Linked DNA regions of Homo sapiens: region 1 is linked to region 2. The links come from fine-mapping of genetic effects on gene expression. A gene starts in region 2. The other region holds a variant in brackets. All regions are shown on one strand. Distances are from middle to middle. Region 1 overlaps TLCD4 (TLC domain containing 4). Region 2 holds the start of RWDD3-DT (RWDD3 divergent transcript).

Evidence for each region. PIP is the estimated chance that this variant, and not a neighbour inherited with it, causes the effect.
Region 1: its variant is fine-mapped to the expression of RWDD3-DT in whole blood (TOPMed, PIP above 0.99).

The regions. Positions count from the first base shown.
Region 1 is chr1:95,182,637-95,194,943 of GRCh38, forward strand. It overlaps TLCD4 (TLC domain containing 4), which reads left to right. Exons shown (of 7, transcript NM_152487.3): 7 at 8,914-12,307. The coding sequence ends at 9,232. The region is part of intron 6 of TLCD4-RWDD3 (TLCD4-RWDD3 readthrough); the gene reads left to right. The region is part of intron 3 of RWDD3-DT (RWDD3 divergent transcript); the gene reads right to left. Among named protein-coding and RNA genes, the nearest start is that of RWDD3-DT, 45 kb to the right of the region's middle. The variant C/T (reference allele first, on the strand shown) is at 6,242.
Region 2 is chr1:95,226,478-95,238,784 of GRCh38, forward strand. It overlaps RWDD3-DT (RWDD3 divergent transcript), which reads right to left and starts at 7,505. Exons shown (of 4, transcript NR_125949.1): 1 at 7,223-7,505. It overlaps TLCD4-RWDD3 (TLCD4-RWDD3 readthrough), which reads left to right. Exons shown (of 8, transcript NM_001199691.1): 7 at 4,425-4,517. RWDD3 (RWD domain containing 3) reads left to right here and starts at 7,733. Exons shown (of 4, transcript NM_015485.5): 1 at 7,733-7,838. The coding sequence starts at 7,754. RefSeq lists silencers at 7,474-7,803, 8,014-8,193.

The DNA of each region.
Region 1 (12,307 bases), 44 kb before region 2:
ATCAGTATAGAAGTCAGCACAATGAAAAAGGCAAATAATGTTTTAATACTATTATTAAAATAATTATATCTTGAAGACCTCCCAAAAAGGACTCAGGGGTCCATAAACCACATTTTAAGACCTATCATTGATTGATACTTGTCACGTAAGGCTTCACAGAGAACGTGGCATACACTCTTAAAATGTTTTAGGACTTTTTTTTTTAAGAAGTGGATGGAGAGGGAAGGGCCTTCATTCAAGAAGAAAAGAATCAACATAGGATTTTGAAAAGTGAAATAAACATGCTATGGGAAAGAGAAAGTATAGGATCAAAGAGTATGTCTTAGGGGTAGGGTGGATAGATGTAGAGGATGTTGAGTGTCTGGGAGAGCTGATTGAACTTGACCCAGTAGACAGTGAGATTATAGTGGAGAAAGACATTCTGGAAAGAGCACTGAGTGGTTATAACTTTTGATATTTGTAGGATAGATTGTAACACTGGAGACAAAAGTTTGGGTTAGGTTACCCAGTTCTTAGTTGTGTGAATGGACAGTGTAATTTTATTAGTTCCGAAAGTAAATAAGAGTCCATATTAAGCTGTGGGACTAGAGAGATGACAAAATAGAGATTTTGAAGAAATGAAATGAAATTGGCAATGAACGGATAAAAAATTAGAGAATACGGACAAGTTTAAGACAAATCCTATATTGGACCCAGAGAAATGTGCCCATCAAAAGTGACAGAGAATTAGGAAGACTGAGAGGGAAGGTGACGAATTTAGTGCGGAGATATTGGATAAGAGGACAAACAGAGCATCTGAGTGGAAATTTAGTGAGAGCTCGAGAGAGGAATGTTGGGATGATCAGAATAAGGTGATATTTTAACCTGTGAGAAAAGATATATTTAGAAGATTAGAGTTAAATGTTTAAGACTGGAAAATCAGCCAGGTGTGGTGGCTCACGCCTGTAATCCCAGCATTTTGGGAGGCCGAGGCGAGCAGATCACAAGGTCAGGAGGAGATCGAGACCATTCTGGCCAACATGGTGAAACCCCGTCTCTACTAAAAGTACAAAAAAGAATTAGCTGGGTGTGGTGGCGCGTAGTCCCGGCTACTCAGGAGGCTGAGGCAGGAGAATCGCTTGAATCTGGGAGGCGGAGATTGCAGTGAGCCGAGATCGCACCACTGCACTCCAGCCTGGCGACAGAGCAAGACTGTCTCAAAAAACAACAACATAAAAAACAAAAACAAAAAAAACAAAAAAACAAGATTGGAGAATCAGAGAAAGAAGAGTAGATATAATGAAGGAATAATTTAGGAGTAGTAGGGGAACCAAAATAATATGAAGCTGGAGGGAAACTTGTCTAAAATTCAGTTCTTAAATTCCTAACCTTCCAGGGTTAATGTTTATTAAATACAAATGTTTACATGCCTGAAGAAATTACATTTGCAACTAAGATGTAAGTAGAGTCAGCTTACAGCCCAGTCCCTTCACAGAGTTCCAGAAACAGTACAGCATCCAAATCCTTATTGGAGTTTTTCCAAGGATGTCAACAAAGATCCAGTTTGTTACTCACAACAGCACTTCTTAAAATTCTCTTCATTCCTCTTGGACTCACAATATCTTGACCCCACAGCTTTCCTAAGGCTCTCTCAAACTTCTGACTCTCAACTCCTCTAAAACTCAACAAACCAGTGCCATCAAGGATCAATTATTTGTCCCTGTCCTCTTTTCTCACTTTTTTTTTTTCTGTGCCTGCAAATAGCCCTCCATCCTCTTTCCAAATGTAAATGTGAATTAGAGCAAATAATTCCTAGTTTTTACACTTTTTCTAGTTTTTACACAATTTTTAGTGAGTACGATACCTCTACACAATTAACTCCCAGTAAACTTAATGGGAAGGTTCAAGTTCCTTTAGAAGGGTAGGAGGAGGAATAATTGCTAAATGACCAAAGTTAGGATTTTCTCTCTGGAGTGAAGGGAGGATTGTATTAATAAATACATACAATTTGCTGTCTTTTATGCCTGTCTTAGTAATAACAGTAAATGGTGGGTAAAAGAAAGTGTTGCTGTTCTTCTTTCCTTCCTTCCCACATGCATGTTTTCCTCCCTTCCCCTCTTTCCTCTCAGATTCAGTACATACCTTCACAAACTGTTAGTCTTTATTTGCTAGAATGAAAGAATGTTCTAATTAGGTAAGAAGAGGTGGATTCCAACAAAATAAGTGATCTTTCTGCCATGGAAGAGGGAGGTAAGGAGGACAGTTATGTAAATATTATTTCACCTTGAGTTAATATTTGGGTTCTTTCCTTTGAAAGAAACTGGTTTAAAGACCAGGCACTGGTTAGATGGAAAAATTGGCAGAAGCTAACACTATGGTTATGAGGAAGCTATGGGTGACCAATTTCTTTTTTTTTTTCTTTTTTTTTAAATTATACTTTAAGTTTTAGGGTACATGTGCACATATGTAACTGACTAATTTCTTTTGTAGAGTTGCAGTCATATCGTCTTGGGTTTGGGAGTGTAGTAAGAATGTCTGTGAATATGTCTGACTCTCCTTTCAAAAAACTGGCAAAGAAGAGAAGCAGTGGAGGGGAGGTTTTTGGATTAGCAGGAATTGAGCACGTTGGTAAAAGAAGAATCAATTTATAGAAGGGGAACTTGGTAGAACAAGGGAAGGCAGGGTAGTTTATTGAATAAATCCTAGAAGATGAGGACTCTCCTCTGAGTTGAAAGGTAAAGGTGCCTGAGAAGAAGTTTTGAGATCTTGGGGTCAGAGTGGAAGGAATTCATGGTTGATGGACTCTAATGCAGTTGACTCCCGAACAACATGGGTTTGAACTGTATGAGTCCACTGACACATCTATTTTTTTCAATAAAATTTGCACTAAGTGTGCCTGCCTTTCCTTCCAACTTCGTCACCTCTTCCACCTCTGCCACCTTTGCGACAGCAAGTCCAACTCCTTCTCTTACTCAAGGCTAGTTAACGTGAAGACGACGAGAATGAAGACCTTTACAAAGATCCACTTTCACTTAATAGTACATATATTTTCTTTTCTTTATGATTTTCTTTTCTCTAGAAAATAACGTTTTTCTCTAGCTTTATTATAAGAATATAGTATATAATGCAAATAACATAAAATAATGTTAATTGACTTTATGTTATTGGTAAGGCTTCTGGTCAACAATCAGGTGTTTGGGCAAGTCAGAAGTCAAGCAATTTTCAACTGTGTGGGGAGTCAGCACCCCTAACCCTGGTGTTGCTCAAGAATTAACTGTATATCAGTAAGAAACCAGATGCTCTGATGGGATTGAGAGACAAAAGTGAATGAGGAAGGGAATTGACTTGAATGGCAGGACAGGTTTGGAAGCAATTATATGGGAACTATGGAGTGAAATGAAAGGACTGTCGAGCCAGTTTGAGAATTCTGCTGAAGTTCAAATCTTTTAAAATTATATTTGTGCCATTTATCTTAATAAAGATTGGTGGGTAATGATATTTATTGAATTTACAGTATGGGGGAGTTGTTACTCTGTGTCATGGCAGCTTCATAGTACAAAGGAGGTACTATCATTTATCCCCATTTATAGAGATAGAACAAACATAGAGGTGAATAGCAGAGAGAGCTAAGACCACACAGTTGCTCCATGGCAGAACCAGGCTTTCAACCCAGGCGGCCTGACTGCAGAGCACCCTAGCTACTCTTCACGTCATTCTGTATTGCCTAAGGAAAGCTGGCTTGATGAAACACTGGAGATCAGCAGAGTGGGTGAGATAGATGAAGTGGCAAGAGAACGGAGGGTGCTGATGTGTGTTCTGAAGTTAACTTGGAGTTTGGATTAGGTAGGAAAGGAAGTGAAAGCGTGGAGGCTGATAGAGAGAGATTTGAGGATTTGAAGGTCAAAGAAGTAGTTTAGGTGAGATTGGGTAAAGAGAAATATGGAAGGCTTATGATTAGAGAGGAATGGGTTCACTGAGGTATAATATTTCTTGAGTAATTCCAAGGCTGCCATGTAGTCAAAGAAATGAATGGCTGAAGGAGAAGGGAAGTCTTTGGAGAAGAGAAGGCTTGAGGATCAGAGACCTGGATTAGAATGTGGATGTCATTGCTTTAGTGATGTTTTTCCTATTTGCAGTATTATTTCATTAATTTAGCCATTGCTATCTAAATAGTCTTTCTTAATTGTCTTAGATAATTTAGCCCTTTTATCCTACATAAACTTATAAAATGTAATACATCTCTCATCCTATATAAATTATTTGATATTTTAATCACTCAATAAAATATTTTCAAGCTTTTTAACTATTAATTTTTAGTTTCTTATGTTGAACAATTTTAGCTTAATCATGACTAATTCAGTTAAATTGAATATTAAGATACACAGATATGTTTTACTGCCTTTGCAATTTGATCTCTAAAATGATGTAAAATTAGGCAAGGCAGTTTTTTTAAGGAAGAAAAAGTGGAATAGAGCGAATGTTCACTGACTTTTTAAAAACCTTTTTATCTTTAGAATAGTTTTACATTTACAGAAAAATCAGAAGGCTGATACAGAGGGTCCCTGTGTACCCCACACCCAGCTTCCCCTATTGTTAGCGTCATAGATCAGTGGGTGCAGTTGTTAACAATTAGCGAGCCAGTGTTAATATCTTATTGTTAACTAAAGTCCATACTTTGTGTGGATTTCTTTCGTTTTTGCCCAGTGCCCCTTTTCTGTCTCAGGATCCCTTCCAGAATGCCACACTACATTTAGTTTCATGTCTGCTTAGGCTACTGTTGGCTGTGATCGTTTCTCAGATGTCCTGTCTCTGGTGACCTTGACGGTTTTGAGGAGTACTGATCAGGTGTTTTGTAGACTGTCCCTCAATTTGGGTTTGTCTGATGTTTTTCTCATGATTACACTGGGGATATGGGGTTTGGGGAGGAAGACCACCGAGGGACAGTATCATTCTCATCACACATATTAGGACTGCATGCTGTGAACATGACTTAATCATTGTTGATGTTAAGCTTGTTCACCTGAGGTACTGTTTGTCCGGTTTCTCCATTTTAAAGTTATTCCTTACACCTGCCCTCCCCCTGCCCCTTCCATACTGTACACTTTGGAAGGAAGTCACTGTGTGTATTAGTTTGTTGGGGACTGCCATAAAAAATGCCACAGTCTGGGTGGCTTAAATAACAGAAATGTGTTTTTGCACAGTGCTGGAAGCCGGATGTCCAAGACCAAGGTGCCTGCAGGGTTGGTTCTTGGTGAGGCGCCTCTCCTCTTCTTGCAGGAGGCAACTTCTCTCTGTGTCCTCACATGGCCTCTTCTCCGTGTGTGCATGGAGGAAGAGGGAGAACTTTGGTCTCTCCTTTCTTTTAAGGGCACTGGTCCTATTGGATTGGAGCCTGACCCTTGTTACTTTATTTAACCTTAATTGCCTTCTTAAAGGACCTATCTTGAAATACAGTCACTTTGGGGCTTTAGGGCTTCAACATAAGAATTTAGCCGGGCGCGGTAGCTCACGCCTGTAATCCCAGCACTTTGGGAGGCCGAGGCGGGTGGATCACAAGGTCAGGAGATCAAGACCATCCTGGCTAACACGGTGAAACCCCGTCTCTACTACAAAATACAAAAAATTAGCCGGGCATGGTGGCGGGCGCCTGTAGTCCCAGCTACTCGGGAGGCTGAGGCAGGAGAATGGCGTGATCCCGGGAGGCGGAGCTTGCAGTGAGCCAAGATCGCGCCACTGTACTCCAGCCTGGGCGACAGAGCGAGACTCCGTCTCAGAAAAAAAAAAAAAAAAAAAAGAATTTAGTGGGAAACAGTTCAATACATTACACTATACACAGCCCACACTTGAGGACTAGGGGTTTATGCTTTACCTTGTTGAAGGTGTGATTTCTACATAAATTATTTGCAGTTATTCGGAACAGATTTGTTTCTTCTCCCCTATTCATTCATTCATTCATTTATATCAGTATTGATTTCTGGATATTTATTTTATACTTTAGGTTATAATCCAATACAACATTATTTATTTTGTTGCTCACATTGTGAGTTTTGGACCTGGAGAGCTCATTTGGTTGGTTTCTGTGTTCCTTTGACATAAAGAAACGTCATTTTGTTTTTTGAGCACTTTCTTGCTCTCTGGCCCTAAATGATACTCTAACAGGTTCATATTGTATATTGTGTATTCTCTGTTCCCAGCCCTCAAATCAGGTATTTCTCAAGGAACCCTAGTTTCTTTCATTGGAGAGTGGTATTAGAAGCCAACA[C/T]GTGGATGCCATGTATGCTCATTGTTACTGAGGCATCATTGTTTCTATGGGCTCCTAGCTGACAGAACCTGGAAATATGCTGACCTGTGTGTATACACCTATCTATAATTATTTCTGTATGTATGCATTTATAGCTATATCAAGCTAAAATAGTTCACTGTTTCCAAATCTAATCCAGTATCTCATGGAAAAAATCTAGCCGCCTCTTGCTTGTCTGAAACCTTTCTATCCAACAATGAGAAACCTGGTTCCCACTATTTTTCATCAAACAAATCCATTTATTTGTTCAGTCCTGATATACATGTATAATGGTTTCAGAATTGTTAATTGTTTTTGCGTGAACTAGAGTACATTGCCTGTATACAGTTTCTTTTGCCTTTGTCTTATAGTCTCCATCTTTGAAGTCACTTAGGTCAGCACCTCTTTCTACCTTACTCCTTTCAGGGATGTTATATCATGCATTTGTAACAGTTAAGATTCTTTTGTCACTGTTTGCATTGCATCCTGGTATCCCCCAACCTCCTAATTGATTGTTTAAAATTTTGCATACATCAGGTTCACTTTTTGTGCACTTCTGTGGGTTTTGATAAGTGCATAATGTCATGTATCCACCACTATAGTATTATGCAGAACAGTTTCACCACCCTAAAATATCCCTTGTTTTACCTACTCAATCCCCTTCCACTCTTTCCGAAACTCTGGTAACCACTATTCTGTTTTCTGTCTTGATACTTTTGCTTTTTCTAGAATGTCTATAAATGGAATCATACAGTGTACAGGATTTTCAGACTGATTTCATTTACTTAGCACTTTAGATTCATTCTTGCTGTTACATTGATAGTTTATTTTTATTGCTAAGTAGTATTCCAATGTATGGATGTACTACAATGTTTGTCCATCTTGATGGCTTGTAGTTGTTGGCAGTTATGAATAAAGCTGGTGTAAACACGTATGCAGCTTTTGTGTGGACATACATTTTTTAATCAGTTGGAAAAATACCTAGGAATGTGATTGCTGGTTTGTGTGCTATGAATATGTTTAGTTTTATGCCTGCTAAACTGTCTTCTAAAGTGGTTGTACCATTTTGCATTCCTAGCAGCAATGAATGTGTGTTCCTCTTGTTCCACACCCTTGCCAGCAATTGTTATTGTCCATTTTTTGGGATTTTAGCTATTTTAATAGGTGTGCATAGTATCTTGTTGCTAAAATTTGCACTTTCTTTTTTTTTTTTTTCTTTTTTTTTGAGACAGAGTCTCACTCTTGTTGCCTAGGCTGGAGTGCAATAGCACGATTTCGGCTCACTGCAACCTCTGCCTCCCAGGTTCAAGAGATTCTCCTGCCTCAGCCTCCCAAGTAGCTGGGATTACAAGAATGCGCCACCACACCCAGATAATTTTGTATTTTTAGTAGAGATGGGGTTTCGCCATTTTGGCCACATTGGTTTCTTTTCTTTTCTTTTCTTTTCTTTTTTGAGATGGAATCTTGCTCTGTCGCCCAGGCTGGAGTGTGGTGGTGTGATCTCGGCTCATTGCAACCTCTGCCTCCTGGGTTCAAGCAATTCTCTGCCTCAGCCTCTGAGTAGCTGGGATTACAGGTGCCCGCCGCCATGCCTGGCTAATTTTTGTATTTTTAGTAGAGACGGGGTTTCACTATCTTGGCCAGGCTGGTCTTGAACTCCTGACCTGATGATCCACGCTCCTCAGCCTCCCAAAGTGCTGGGATTACAGGGGTGAGCCACTGCGCCTGGCTGGCCAGGCTGGTTTCAAACCCCTGACCTCAGGTGATCCACCTGCCTCAGCCTCCCAAAGTGCTGGGATTACAGGCGTGAGCCACTGCAATTTGCACTTCCTAATGACAATAGTGAACATCTTTTTATATGCTTAGTTTTCATCTATATATATTTTCTGATGAGGTTTTTGTTATGCTCTTTTACCAGTGTTTTAATTGGGTTGTTTTCTTATTGTTGACTTTTAAGAATTCTTTGTGTACTTTGTATACATGTACTTTACCATACATGTATATTTTAAATATTTTTTCCTAGTGTGTGGTTGTCTTTTCTTTAACAGTGTCTTTCGCAGAGCAAGTTTTAATTTTAACGAAGTCCAACTTAACTAACTTTTTCTTCCATGGATGACACTTTTGGTGTTGTATCTAAAATAGCACCACCAGATGCAAGATCATACAGGTTTTTTTCCTTTTTTCTTATGGAAGTTTTATAGTTTTGCATTTTACATTTAGGTCTATGATCCATTTTGAGTTAATTTTTGTGTAAGGTGTGAGATCTCTGCTTAACTTCATTTTTCTCGATGTTGATATACAATTTTGCACACCTTGTTGAAAAGACTTTTTTTCTCCACTGAATTACCTTTATGCTTTTGTCACAAATCAGTTGAGTATATTTGTGTGGGTCTATTTCTGAGCTCTCTTTTCTCTTCCATTGGTTTATTGATCTTTCACTAACACCATGCTGACTTGATTACTGTCGCTTTATAGTTAAGTCTTGGAAATGGGTAGTGTGAGTCCTCCAACTTTGTTCTTTTTCAGCATTGCGTATGCTATTCTAGGCCCTTTGCTCCTCCTTCACTGAATTTTAAAATTTAAAAACTAAAATAAAAATGGTTAATCCTCAGAGATGCACTATAAATGTGATGTTTCTTTAATTCATTTTTCAGGTGGTTCTTTGAAGCTCTGAAGTATCCCAAGTTTTCTAAAGCTATCGTTATCAATGGAATACTCATGACAGTAGTATTCTTCATCGTGCGGATTGCCTCAATGCTTCCTCATTATGGCTTCATGTATTCCGTGTATGGAACAGAACCCTACATAAGGCTTGGAGTTTTAATCCAGTTATCCTGGGTCATTAGTTGTGTTGTTTTGGATGTGATGAATGTCATGTGGATGATCAAAATTTCAAAAGGTTGCATCAAAGTCATCTCTCACATCAGACAAGAGAAAGCCAAAAATAGTCTTCAGAATGGAAAACTTGATTAAAAGAGTGCTACCGATAAGCAAACTTCATTACTACCCAGCATATCTGCTGATAGGATGAATTCTTGGCATGTTCTTGTGTACCTTTCTTAATTATAATTGTTATTCAGGATTTCAGTGTCATTTTTTTTAAACCTTAGAAAAGAGAAGGCCGGGCACGGTGGCTCATGCCTGTAATCCCAGCACTTTGGGAGGCCAAGGTGGGTCGATCACTGAGGTCAGGAGTTCGAGACTAGCTTGGCCAACATGGTGAAACCTCATCTCTACTAAAAATACAAAAAAAAGTAGCTGGGCGTGGTGGTTGGCGCCTGTAATCCCAGCTACTCGGGAGGCTGAGGCAGGAGAATCGCTTGAACCCGAGAGACGGAGGTTGCAGTGAGCTGATATTGTGCCACTGCACTCCAGCCTGGGCGACAGAGCAAGACTCTGTCTCAAAAAAAAAAAAAAGAGAGAAACTAAAATTAAAATTTAGTTTTCATCCCAAGATGTCTTTTCTGCCTTTCTTTTGCCTTATTTACAAGCATGGATAAAAATCTTAAAGGTTTAAATAAAAATGATCAATATAATGGTGAATCTTTTGAGAAATCTCTTAACTGCATTGGTATTTTTTCTCTGTGAAAGATGACTATGATAATCTGGTACAAATGGTTTTATGTCACCAATTTTGCTGCAAGAATGGGAACTGCTTTTAAATCTGTAAATAGCTCTTAACATTTGTTGTATGCACTCTTTTCTTACTATGGCTGTCAACACTTGTGTAGGGTTTAATTTCTAAATTGTTGGCATGTTCTTTTTCTCAGGCTATTCAGAAGTAACAACATTTTTCATTTCAGACATGCAATCACCTATTAATGATGAAATATTTTACCACTTTGGGAATATTTAATTAGTTTAGTCATGGAGAATACTTCCCACATTTTAAGATTTTTTCAAATATCACTGTCATTTCTATTTTAGCATTTTATCAAATTATTGCTTTTTTATTTTATAATAAGGCTTAAGACAGATTATAGACCTCCTTAAGAGATGAGTTTCTTCTTCTAAAAATGCATGTTGATAGAGGACTATTTAGGCTAATCGGAGGAATCATTAAGAAAGAAAGTTTTAACACTGTTTATCCCTATCTGCTTTCCTTGCACTTTTTCTGTGAAAAATATTTTCTGTTTGCAAAATCTTCCCTGAGTTCTGAACCCAGCACCATCAGTACCAAAGTCTTATGCAATATGTATTTATTATGCTCCTGAAATAGGCCTCTTCTTGATGAGACCCAAACTATTACAAAAATATCAGTATTCATATTTTACTCACAATTCATACCCGTGCTTACTTAGTTGGCATTTTAGTGCTTTGAATTTCTATCTTAAAGCACAGAAAAAAAAAGGTAATTTAATCCAAGTATTCTATCATCAAAATTATTGTCTGATTATATGAAGATAAATGACTGGCGACTCTGGTTGTGTGTGTATGTGTTTTGCTTTTACTTTAATTCTTGCAATCCAAATATAGAATTATATATTTATCTATTATTGCCTTTATTCTTTAAGCACTTGAGTTTAATGATTATTCTTACCTGAGAAAGGAAGAAATTTAATTCTACCAGTGATGAATACTTGAAATTAATTGAACTCATACCAAAAGATGTAATCCAGTTTCTCAGTTTGAAGGAGAACGTTTGACTCACTTTCATTGTTCATGCTAGCTGAATATAATCAAGACTTTTGATTTGATTTGCTTTTATTATTCAATGCAGATAGAGCCTGATAAGTTTTAGAACATTTAAAGAAGATTGAAATCTCAGTCAGTAACTAAATGATAAAATGAGATTGATTGGCTTATACTAGGTACATTTATTTTTGAAAGAATTAATGTAAAATAATAGTTATTTTTAAAGCAGCTAATATTACACTGATAATTTGTTGCTAAATTTAGTGCTGTCCACATCATAGGTGCTTAAATATGTACTGGTTAACTAGAGGGGGGTAGGAAAGCAAGCGGTTTTATCTTGTTCTTACCTTTTTGCAGGAAAAGTGGCTTTAAAAAAATTTATATAATAAAACTATTTTGGAAATTCATTCTTTTAGAAAGAGACCTTGAGATAAATATTTTTTGACTCTGGATATTTCTATAGTTCTGAACACAGATTTTAAACCCACTATCAAAATGAAAACAATATAAAGCTATATTAGTGAGTCTCCATGTAGCAGTTTGTTTTTATAGTTACTGTTTCATGCTTAAAACTTCATTCTTACTTTCATTAATGTTACCCTTCACTGGTATAGCCACTCACTAAATAAGTATATTTAAAACATCAAAATTTTGAACTAAAGTTTGTGATTCTCTTATTCAGCAATCCTTATCTTATGCTGGCTGCATGAGTTAATTCAACATCCAGATTAAATATCCTGAAGTAGGTTCTATATATTTCCTCATACAACAGACATGGAATGGAAATGCCACTAGAAACTGCCCTGCTACTTTTAAGTCTGACCTTTGCAGGAGGTACACTTTGCTGTTCTATGATTGTATTCACCTACCTAAAATACAAATGAAGACAGAACATATCATTTACTGCACGATGAATTTTTCATTTATTAAATGAAAAACGTTTGCTAGACATTTTAAATATTAAGTATTTTGACTACACGGATTAATTTAAATGATTCTATCAGGCATTCTGATATTTAACAACTCTATTAAAATATTTATAGAAAAATAAAAGCAAATTGATATAAATTTTTGAGCAATTCTATTTTTGTAGAAAAAAGATAACCTGTAATTATAAAGATGTTTTTTGAATGTGTAGTATCCTAGAAAATAAAAGTTCTTGTGAAACTTAAAAAATGAATGAAAACCAACTAATAGCATGCAAGATCATAGATCCTGCATTAAATTTTTATTTGTGAAAATTTGAAAATTATGAGCTATAACTTATAAAGTTTGCCTTCTTATGTCTAAAATCTTTTAAAGGATTATTTGCATTTATGTAAAACTGGAAATGAAGTTATATATGAGTGCAAAGAAATTGACTTCTGCTCAAATATGTGTTGATACCCTACAGTAAATTGAATTAAATTTTTA
Region 2 (12,307 bases):
GAAATAGGATAGATTTCTAGCTAGCCTGGATCAGGTACCATGGGGTATCTCATTACAGTTTGGGACATAAACACTATATAGATTTACCTACCACATGACTTCCAGACTCAACCCAGTAATGTCAAAACTTTATATTGCATAGTAGCTTTAAATTACTTTAAAAGCCATTTTTATTTGCGCATAATACAATCAAGTGAAGTGGTAACTGTGAGCAACTGTTAGTCAAATGTGAAAAGTTACTGTAAAGGTGACATGCACTCCTCTTTTCAGCTCCCCGTATGAAGCTGTGGGGCTTCGTTAGGATTAATCCATTGTTGCATTTGCCCATTTGTATTTTCTTCACTACTCTCAATGTGAATCAAGTAAAGACATCAGTATTAATCTGCCTGCTTAACACTGATGTGTGTCAACATGTTCAAGGTATGATAAAATCTGGTAGAAATCAGAGTGGAGGTAATAAGAAAAGTGAACCATAACCTATTTACTTATACACTATAACCATGCATTAATTCATTCTTGACTCATTCCACAAATATTGAATGCCTTTTATATGCCAGGCCCTGTGCTAAAAGTTGGAGATACAACCAAAGATGACATAGAAATGCACCCTCATCTCATGAAAATCATAATCTACTGGGATTATAGACATATAAGCAAATACAGTTCCCTACGATAAGTGATGGGGAAGTATAGGATGAGTGGAATTCAGACCTGAAGAATGAATAAGAGTTCACCAGAGGGAGAAGTAAGGAATTATCTTAGGAAAAAGGGGAAAGAGGTAATGACAAAGTATGTGGTAATATGATCCCAAGAGTAGAAGCTCTGGCTGTGTTTCATCTGGAAGTATAATGTTCATTTTGAAACTAATGAAGCTATCAGTGAAAAAATGTCTGGCTAATTAATGTTTTGAACAGCAATGAGAATCACGTAAATAGACAAGGATTTTACCTAAAACAACAAATGACAAAGTATTATAGCCTAGCCTTTTATTCTTAGATAGCTTTTATATCACTAAGGCAGAGAGATAGAAACACACACAGAGAGACGTAGAGAGAGAGAGAGAGAGAGGGGCAGTCAGACAGACAGAAACAAAAGCCAATGTGGTATTAGCAGGTGGCAATTGTGCTACAAGGGAGATTTTTTCTATTGACTTTTTTTCCCCACTAAAAACAGAAGGAAATAATGTTAAAAAGTGAAAAACAACAGGGAAATGCAGAAACACTCCCACAAAGGGGTTATTGTTTTGATCCAGATTGTGTTAGAAACACGAGCAAAATAGTGCTTCTTTGTTTCATTGCCAGGAAGTACATCACCGTCATTGTGAAATTCTTGAGATTCAGACCGGCAATCATCTACTCCCATGATTTCAACAGGCTGCAGATGACCACATGTATGATTTTTTTTTTTTTTTTTTTTTTGAGACGGAGTCTCGCTCTGTCGCCCCAGGCTGGAGTGCAGTGGCGCGATCTAGGCACACTGCAAGCTCCGCCTCTCGGGTTCACGCCATTCTCCTGCCTCAGCCTCCCAAGTAGCTGGGACTACAGGCGCCCACCACCACGCCCGGCTAATGTTTTTGTTTTTTTAGTAGAGACGGGGTTTCACCGTGTTAGCCAGGATGGTCTCGATCTCCTGACCTCGTGATCCTCCCGTCTCGGCCTCCCAAAGTGCTGGGATTACAGCAATCACTCGATGGCGTGAGCCATCGCGCCCGGCCATGTATGATCTTTTAAGACCTGTCTCTCCCACTATACTACAACTTCTAAGAGATCCTGTTGCAAACCAGTTTCCCTGGGACCTGGTGCAATACTTGGCACATAGTAAGGTGCTCAATAAGTGCTTGTTGAAGAATAAAGGCAGAGATCTATCTTTCCAGCCACATTTCCTTAAGCTTTCTTCTTCCCCCGCTTACCCTATGATGGGGAACCTCTATCACAATGGCCAAACCAGGCATCCTAGGCCTTCTCCAATGGTTTTTTACTTCTTTGGCAGGACCTTCATCACTTTATCCCAGGAAATGCTGGTGCCCCTCTGGGATTAGATTCCAAGTGCCTGGAGGGCAGTGACTATGTCTCATTCACTCACAAAAACACCTGAAATTTTACAAAATGACTAGCATATAGTAGGTGCTTGTTAAGTCTAAGTTATTTTATCAAGAATTTATGAACTTTATGATGAGTTTATTTGTATCAATAAATATGTATCGAATTCCTAATCTGCCAGGCACTGTTTAAGGTATGGAAGATACAGAGGTGAACAAGCATGATAAGGCCCCTGGAAGCTTACTGGAACTTTAAATTCTAGTAGAGACAAACTAGATCCCTATCTGTCACCATATACAAAAATCAATTCAAAATAGATTAAAGACTTAAATTTAAGACCAGAAACTATGAAACTACTAGAAGCAAACATAGGGGAAATGGATCAGGACATTGGTCTAGGCAAAGATTTTTTGGGTAAGACCTCAAAAGCAGAGGCAACATAAACAATAGACAAATGGGATTACATCAAACTAAAAAGCCTCTGCACAGCAAAGGAAGCAATCAGCAGAGTGAAGAGGCAACCTACAGAATGGGAAAAAAAATATTTGCAAGCTATCCATCTGACCCAAACTCATCTTAATGAGTACAGGGCCTGTCAGATTAAAACCAACATTTTCAAGCTCCCTTTTAACTGGCAGCAGTCATGGGGACTGAGTCCTAGTCAATGAAATTGGACTGAATCCCATTCTTCTGACTCGTGATCGGAGCTCCAAAAGCCACCCTGAACCACAGCATGACCATGGGAATCAAATCTGTGCAGAGCAGAGCCACAAAATAGATGGAACTTATATCCTGACACCGGGGAGCACCAAAGCTCTGCCTACCTCCACACTTGAACGTTTAAGAGAAAACCAATTGTATCTTGTTAAAGCCACTGCACTGTTAGGCTCTGTGCTTTTTTTCACCTGAACTAATCGTAAATCATACATCTGTTAAACACATCACTTTAGAACCTGTCATCTTCTGTCTCTTAATATCATCCACCAACTCTATTCACTCCATTTGGCCCCGGTTTTCCTTTTTCTTCCCTATTTTCCTGCTTTATTTTTGTCCTTTTTCCCTTAATTGAGCATTAGGCAAAACTCAAATATCCTGATGTATTATCTACTGAACACATTTTAAAAATTAACATTTATTAAAAAGAATATGAAATACACAAATGTAGAGGGAATGAAATACTGAATCTTCATGTACCCATCACTCCACCCCACCAATCATTAACCTATGATCAGCTTCTGCCCCACTCACACTATAGCCTCTTCCTCCCTCCTATATTATTTTGAATCAAATTTCAGACCTCATATTGTTATTGAATCAAGTTTCAGACTTCTTTATTTAAGAAGCAGGCAAGTCAATCTTTTTTACTTTTTCCTTACATAAAGACAAATTCCTAACTCATGACTTCTTTTGCCTCATAAAAATCAATCTTTTCTTTCCCTATTTCTCCTCCTTTTCCCCCTTCCCCTCTTCCTCCTACCTCTTTTTTTTTCTCTTTCTCTTTCCCTTCCTACCTTCTTCCCTCCTTCCACTATAATTTTTAAAAAGGAAATCCAAGTCTAATTTTCCCAGTTTTACCTGTGGTTCCTTGATATACATCTGTCTTTCCATTTTCAATCACTTTTGCTAAAATGGCAGAGTTTACTCATGGATAGTCCCTTTATGAGTTTGGAGAAAAGGATATTTAAGTCACACAATCCTCAGCCCTCTTTTAGATAATAAAAACTGGCTACACTAGTAATACAGTGGGAAAATATAATGAATAAGAAGAATCCATTTATAATAGTCACCAAAATTAAATATTGGATACTATTTTAACTAGAAAAACTCAAAAACCCCAATGATACCAGTGACTTGTTTTTATAACATTGAGAAGGCATTGAGCTTTTATATTGGTGGATTTGGGCCATATGGATGGGTTCCCATAAAGCAAGCTGGAACTGTCTTGATACCATTCATGCATAGAAATCAAGCATGGCAGAGTGCAGCCGATATTTTGGAGGGAGTGCAGATTACTTGGACATGATGGAGGCAGATCTTTCCACACAAGGGTATGATCACAGAGCCAGTGGCAAATTCTCATAGATTTTATTTGCTTTTATCATTATGAAAAATAAATTTACGATCTGTATACTGTAACAAAACAAAACAACTATGACTAGTTAACATCCCAGACTTTGTGTACTTTTGGAGGGCTACTGTGTTCCTGAGCATTTCCAAATTATTTCTCCCCTCGGAAATTGTGGGAGGTATATGCTACTCCTACTCTGTTACTTTAACCTACATCATAATATTGAACTTTACACCGCTAAGGAAATGTGATAATTCTTGTATGCTCAGCTTGGTGAAAGAATTTGTAATTGTTTCATATTGTGTTTACTTGTCTAGACCAAAGGCTGTAGTCACTGGAAACATGGACTTGTTTTCATCTCTAACTCTCCACCTCTCCACACTCAGCCTGCAGAGCCCGGCCAACAATCAGTGAGTGTCTAAGAACATTTTGTGAAATGAGTATGCGAATGCAGAAACTCTTTAGACAGAACCAGTAGCACAGGTTCTTGGAGTTCAGATTTATTTAGGAAGTTGGCATTTAAGCCCTCTTTTGGTTGTTTTGGTGGTTCATGAAAGTACTTTTACCTTTCTCAGTTTTGATTTGATATTTTTTCTTATCACACTCCACTCCAGTATTAGGATCCTCACCTTTTTTTGACATAACACTTAACTCTCCTAATACACTTGAAATTGTGCATTCTCATTTCTATGCTCACGTGAGTTTTGACTTAAGATTTCAAACTCAGAGTTGAGTAAGTCTACATACTACTCATGAGAAAGTGAGTAGAACTGTTTCCCCCCAAAATGAAAAGAACTATCTTCTGGGTTATTGGTTTTAACTGAAGGTGAAAGGTTTTAAACCTTTTCCCCTTATGGTCTTGGGGAAGCAACTATTTAGAAAATTTGCTTGTAAAAATAATACTTGTAAAAATAATAATTGTTCTAGCAAATCATACACCTTTGTGTGTGTAAGGGTGAGAAGGGAGAGAGAGAGATGGAGGTAGACAATGCTCTAACTGTAGACATTCATCCTACATTTAAATATTTTGAATTTTCAGTAGCCTGTGAATACGAGGAAACTTATTACATTAAGGTAGACTTTAGAGATTTGACATGTAGCTGATATTTTCACAGTGCAAGAAATATCAAGCTGACATTATGCAGTCTCTGAGATGATTATTTCCAAATGTCAGAGTGCAGAAACTTATTCATGGGACTTCAGTGCCTTAGGATAGTGTCAATTTAAAAGACATTCACATTGACTTCTTTTTTATTTAAACATGCTAAATGAGGTATGAAAAGCAGATTAAGAAATCAACTGAGAAAGGAAGAGCAAAGAAGAAACCTATTGACAAGAAAATTTTAAATCATAGATTGATGTACTCTTTAATCAATTTTCATGGACCTATTGCTGACAGCAGGCTTTAGCAACTGCCTCCTAATCCTTCCTACAGCTGTAATTTTGCTCTTCATGTTATTTCACTCATCTCACTTATAGTGAATTTGGAAAATTAAAAATAAGTAAAAACTATTTGAATATTTTATAGATTTTTTTTTGCTCTTGAGACGGAGTCTCGCTTGGTTGCCTAGGCTGGAGTGGTGCAAAGGTGCGATCTCGGCTCACTGCAACCTCCGCCTCCCGGGTTCAAGCGATTCTCCTGCCTCAGCCTCCTGAGTAGCTGGGATGATAGGTGCTTGCCACCACGCCCAGCTAAATTTTGTATTTTTAGTAGAGACAGCATTTCACCATGTTGGTCAGGCTGGTCCCGAACTCCTGACCTCAGGTGATCCACCCGCCTCGGCCTCCCAAAGTGCTGGGCTTACAGGCATGAGCCACTGCGCCCAGCCTATTTTATAGATTATTTTCAATAAATAAGTCAAAAACCAAATTGTTTGACTTTTCATAGTAACACTGGATTTCGAATTAAAATAACTTAGTAATATTTTAAATTAAAAACGTATTCTTTTGTTCAATCTCTTTAGCAGTTAATTATGAACCTACTGAACTGCTGGAACGTCTGTTATTTTGGAAATAAAGGAGTTTTTTTTTTCTTCAAGCCAATTGGCCATATCAGAGATAACTGCATTTAAATAAGCCTTCATCTTCCCAATTATGTGCTCCTAATTACTCGGGGTCACTGAAATCCCATGGCATCTTCTGAAAAGCATTTTCCCTGCAGTCCATCTTGTTAGGTTTCCTTTCTGTTCCGGGAAGCCAGTATCTTTTCCTTTATCAGATTCCTTTTTTACCAACAGCGGGAATGGTAATGGTGAATGGATGCAGGGTTTTAAAATCAGCCAACTTTGTTCTGACTTCCGTAGGTCAGTGACTGGAGTCACTGCCTAACAACCTAAATTCCCAGATTTATCTCATGAAATGTGATTTCTCATACAAACAAAAGTTGTGAGAACTCCATGAGCAAGACCAGCTGCTTGTGGGGACTGCCAAATTTTAAACTGTTATTTGAACAGCAAAAAGACCAGGCAAACATCCGAGAGACAGACCTAACTGCAGATAAGTCTTGTAATCTTGTTCACTATAGTCAAAACAGAATGGATTGCTTATTCTGTTACCCTATTGGTATTGCTCACATTTTAAAATTTAGGTGCTGGGCTCAAGAATGATAATTTTATTATTAAGCTTCAAGAGTCACATTGTATTGTATGCATTGAATATCACGAAATCGAAAACACTGAAAAGCTAGCGTTTACATTCTTGGATCATACCCCCAAAGGCCAAGGATTCCCACTGGCCGCTTGCAGCAGGGCTGTCTCCTGTGAAGGCAAGAGACAAACGAGGAGCGTTATGACACTTTGCTCCCAGGACTTTGGCGCACAGTTCCCATGAGTCCAGGTCCGTCCAGTCAACATCCTGAAGCCAGGACTGGCAGGTCCTGACCCTCCCTTTTTGCACCCGTAAGGGGAAGGGCCCGGGAATCTGGACCTTGTCTAGAGTCCCGGCGCCAGTACCAGTTCGGAGGGCATCCTGGAGGTTGTTACTAACCCGAGCCTCTTCCAGGCTTCCCAGGCACCAGGGTTGCTAACAGCTCCACGGGGGCGAATAATTTTGTTTATTTTGTTAACTGTGGTTATCTCCAACACTCAGTTCAGACCTGAGCCGGGCAAAGTCTCACCTTGTCTCCTGGTCACTTCCCTGCTTGTTTGTTTCTTCCTAACTCCCAAGTGTCTTTCGCCCAGTTCATCCCCACCTCAGCAGCCCAAGGCTCGGCGGGGACGGTCGGGGTTCGAAGCCTGCAGCTAAACTTAGAGGGTTCAGGCTTTGCTGGGAGGCCTCCCTGTGCTCAGAAGAGCCGGGGGTAAGCTGGGCGGTCGCCTTGGGTGCAGACAGAGGCGCAGGGCCTCGGCCTCCAAGAAAATTCCCAAACCGAGAGGCTGAGCTTCGCGTCTGTAGTTACTGAGCAGGAGCTTCTGGGCGGAACTTCTAAGGGCCCCGCCCGCCCCGTCTGCCCTGACCCTCGCCCGGACTCGCCTCGCCCACGTCCCGTTTCGCTTCGCCCCAGCTCCGTCTCGCCCCGCCCCCGTCCCGCCCGGTTGCGGAGGCGCGGGGCGCCCCCGGGTGGCCGCGGGCAGTGCTGCTCCTGGCCGGTGGAGGCGGCGGCTGCGGCAGCGGAAGGGGAAGCGCTGAGGCGGTGGGGCCCACAGCCATGGCGGAGCCTGTGCAGGAGGAGCTCTCGGTCCTGGCCGCGATTTTCTGCAGGCCCCACGAGTGGGAGGTGCTGAGCCGCTCAGGTGACTACCCGCGCGCGGGAGGGACAGGGCGCCCTCAGGGGCCACCCGCGTTCGCTTTGCGTCTCCTCCCCACCACGGAGCCTGGGCACCCCGCCTGGGCCCACGTATGGGGACCGGGTTAGTTGAATGATGGAATGACACGCCCGGAGGCCGGAGTGGTGTCGCAGCGGGCGGGAGTGTGAGGCGACCCCAGAAACACTAAGAGAGCGGCGCGGCCCACTGGGGCCTCTGCCGCCGGTCCCGCTCCCGGAGCCGGGGGCCCCTGCGTGCGCACCCCCAGGCCCTCCCCCAGCCTCCCACCCCTCAGATCTCACCCTATAAAGAAGCCTGTGCTGACGCCCCCTCGTTGTTCTGTGTCCTTCCTAAGCACTATGCCCTAGGCCCCCCCGAGAGCACTCCCCGGTTCTAACTCTACACGGGTATTTGTAGGTCTTAAGTTGCAGGAGGGCAGGGTCTGTTTGGTAATGACTCCAGGCACCTGGTAGGTAGTAGGTAAATGTTTGTTGACTGAACTTTTTCATTTATCCAGTGCTCAACCTCAACTTTATCTGCATTCTATTTCCAAGTTGATTGCTTTTCTGATACTTTTTTTTTTTTAGGTGGAGTCTCTCTTGTTGCCCTGGCTGGAGTGCAGTGGATCCATCTGGACTCACTGCAGCCTCCGCCTCCCGAGTAGCTGGGATCACAGGCGCGTGCCACCATGCCTGGCTGAATTTTATTTATTTTATTTTATTTATTTTTTATTTTTTAAGACGGAGTCTTGCTTTGTCGCCTAGGCTGGAGTGCAGTGGCGCGATCTCGGGTCACTGCAACCTCCGCCTCCCGGGTTCACGCCATTCTCCTGCCTCAGCCTCCCGAGTAGCTGGGACTACAGGCGCCCACCACCACGCCCGGCTAATTTTTTGTATTTTTTTTTTTAGTAGAGACAGGGTTTCACCGTGTTAGCCAGGATGGTCTCGATCTCCGGACCTCGTGGTCCGCCCGCCTCGGCCTCCGAAAGTGCTGGGATTACAGGCGTGAGCCACTGCGCCCGGCCTTTTTTTTTTTTTTTTTTTTTTTTTGAGACAGAGTCTTGTTCTGTCCCCCAGGCTGGAGTGCAGTGGCGCGATCTCGGCTCACTGCAAGCTCCACCTCCTGGGTTCACACCATTCTCCTGCCTCAGCCTCCCGAGTAGCTGGCACTACAGGCGCCTGCCACCATGACTGGCTAATTTTTTGTATTTTTAGTAGAGACGGGGTTTCACCATGTTGGCCAGGCTGGTCTCAATCTCCTGACCTCGTGATCCGCGCGTCTCGGCCTCCCAAGGTGCTGGGATTACAGGCGTGAGCCACAGGTGCCTGGCCTTCTGATACTTTTTTTTAAACAAGCTCTTGAGGGCTTTATTAGTCATTTAGCCCACATTTATTGAATCCCTGCTGCCTACAGACTTTGTCAGGGTTTCAGAGACACCGCTACCCATGGCCTCTAGGAGCTTACAGTGTAGAGAGGTTCTTTTGACTATTTTTTGATGATAGGTGAAACTTACTGTCCCTGTATGTGGCTTCTATTGAATAAAAAAAAAAGAAAAAACACTGCCATGTATGAGAAAGTGACTCAGTTTTCACTTAGCTTTCAGATACATTATGTACATGTTTGGGGCATGAGATTTATCGTTCTAATGTTATATTGTAGCTACCATTAAAATTGGCTTTCTGACCATAAATTGGTTAACCTTTAAGAAGGTAGTCTAGGCCTGGCGCGTGGCTCATGCCTGTAATCCCAGCACTTTGGGAGGCCGAGGCGGGCAGATCACCTGAGGTCAGGAGTTCAAGACCAGCCTGGCCAACATGGCGAAACCCCATCTCTACTAAAAATACAAAAATTAGCTGGGCATGGTGGCACACGCCTGTGATCCTTGCTACTCGGGAGGCTGAGGCAGGAGAATCACTTGAACCCGGGAGGCGGAGGTTGCAGTGAGCCAAGATCTCACCATTCATTGCACTGCAGCCTGGGTAACAAGAGTGAAACTCTGTCTCAGAAAAAAAAAAAAAAAGTAGTCTAAAAATGGGCTGGATGTTGTGAGAAAACCATTTAAGATTAAGATCCTTCATGATATCCATTGGGTGTGTTATTCACTGAAGGACAGGGAGTTGACTTCCATTTATTCCTTCTTGCATTCATCCACTCACATCCACTCATTGGGCACTGTTATGTTCCAGGCACTATGCACCTATTAGTGTAATGGAGTTGCTTTCTTTTTAGTGCCCAGCCTGACTTGTATCTTTTGAAACAATTGTTTAAAATCCATATGAAGGGGTTTACTCACTTTTAGTGTTTTCTTGTCATCCCTCTTCTGATTGGATAATTCTTCACCATCTCCCTCTCTGTCTCCACTGTTCTCTTTATTGATAATTACTTCTGCCTGAGGCAGCTATTTGAAGAGATCATCAGTTTTCCTAAATTCCTTTATTATGGCTCAGTTGGGAATATCCTGGAAAAATGAACCTGCAATTTCCCATCACACCTTAAAGAACTGGTAATGGTCTGGGTCATTAGTACACAGCTGAGCATAAAACACTGCTGAAGGGTCAGAGAAAACCCAAAAATGTAAGCATAGAAAGAAAACAGTTTCTTAATCTTGAGAACACTGTGAACCCTTTATCTGCTGTTAAATTGAGCATGACTTTCAAGCCATGCCTCCTAATTAGTTTAATTCCATGTTCTGGCATCAATAAGTAATTGAATTATAAAAGAATTCAGTGTAACAACTTAGGACATTTTGTTGCTGAGAGGTAGAATAATTCAGTGATTGAAATGGGGATGTTTGATGTTCACAAGTGGGAATTAAGGGGGTAAGGTAAAGGCCTTTTTTTTTTTTCCCATGATTTTCGTAACATCTTTTTACAAAGTAAGGACTTCTTTAACAGACCACAGTAAACATGCAGCAGACTGCTGGCTACCACTCACCATCACTGTCAGTTTGGGTTGGAGGATACACACTTGATACCAGAACACTCTAAACACTAGTTCTTTTCTGGCCTCCCCCAAATAAGGTTCTCCCTTTTGCCACTGGAATCAGGAGAATGTTGCAGAGGAATTGCATTCCTGGTAACAAGATAACCCAGCAAGACTCAGACTGCTAACCCAAGGATCAACTATTAAGGCCGTAAGATTGAAGAAGCTAAATAATTGGATTCCATTTAGCTGGACTAATTTTATGCTGAGAATTTCAGGGGATTTTATCTGCCTTTTGATCTCTTTACAATGGTTATAGTAAGCTTCTAGTAAGAGGCATAACCATCTCTTAGGGGTGCAAATTAAGTAAGTCCCTACACTCCCATCTACAAGGGAGGGCTGTGGATAGACCACATTAGGGATATTCTGTTTTTCTGTATGCATTGTAGTCAGTCCAGGTGCCAGATTTGATGGGGTGACCTGCCATGTACGTGATACTTGAAATGCATCTTACTTGATGAGGGGTACTATTGGTCTTACTTCACAGAGAAGATAACTGATACTCAGACTGGTTAAATAACCACCAGGCTCCAGGTGTATGGGCCTTTGCACTGCATCATGCTCCTTAATAGAGAGATGGGGCTGTTGCATCAGGAAAATAGTTCTTGGAAAGCAAGGAAATACTTGTGCAGAAAGAGCGATAATGAGCACCCAGAGAAAAGATATGAGTGTGAGCCAACTTATGTTCAGAACAATCCCAAAGGGGAGTGTTTGTGCATGTATGTGTGGATCTATGAGAGGCGTGAGATTGGTATTGTATCACCATTTTCCTGATGAGGAAATTGAGTGACACAGATTATGTGGCCATAGTCAATGTTCGTTATATGTGGGAGTTGTGCTTCTGGAAAGAATCTTACAGATAAAAAAGTTGTAAGATGGGAGAACCCAATATCATGTAATAGGTTTTCACAGAAGCTGCAGAGTGAATTTTTGTATTTTAGCAACACTAATGTTCAAATTAGTTTGGGCCTTCTTATAAAATGAATCATGACTGTCACACATTGACCCCTCTAAATCTGCTCAGCTCGGTTTTATGCTGATTGTCAGTATTGAGCTGACTTCTATAAAACCGATGAGATTGCTACTTTTAGCTTCATTTATTTTTAGTTTTTTTTTTTTTCTTCTGAAGCTACATTGAAACTTATGTAAAAATCCAACTGAAGCATAAAACAAGCACTGGTGTATGCTTGCCTGGGAGCTGCCTGGGAGCAAGAGGAGACAGTCTTGTCTTACCAAGTATGAGAGGGTGCTGAAGGTTTCTTGGTGGTTTTCTTCAAAGTTGTATCTTGAGGATATATAACAATTGCAAAGAAAAAAAACACAAGTGTAGGGAAGGTCAGATGTATATGGTATGTAAACAATTTCTTAATGGGCTCTTAGTGAATCCTGAAAAACCCATTCTCTTAAATTTTACCTTTTTTTAAAAATGTCTTCTGTTATTTGACTGCATTTATAGAGTTTCTGTTGTGTGTTGT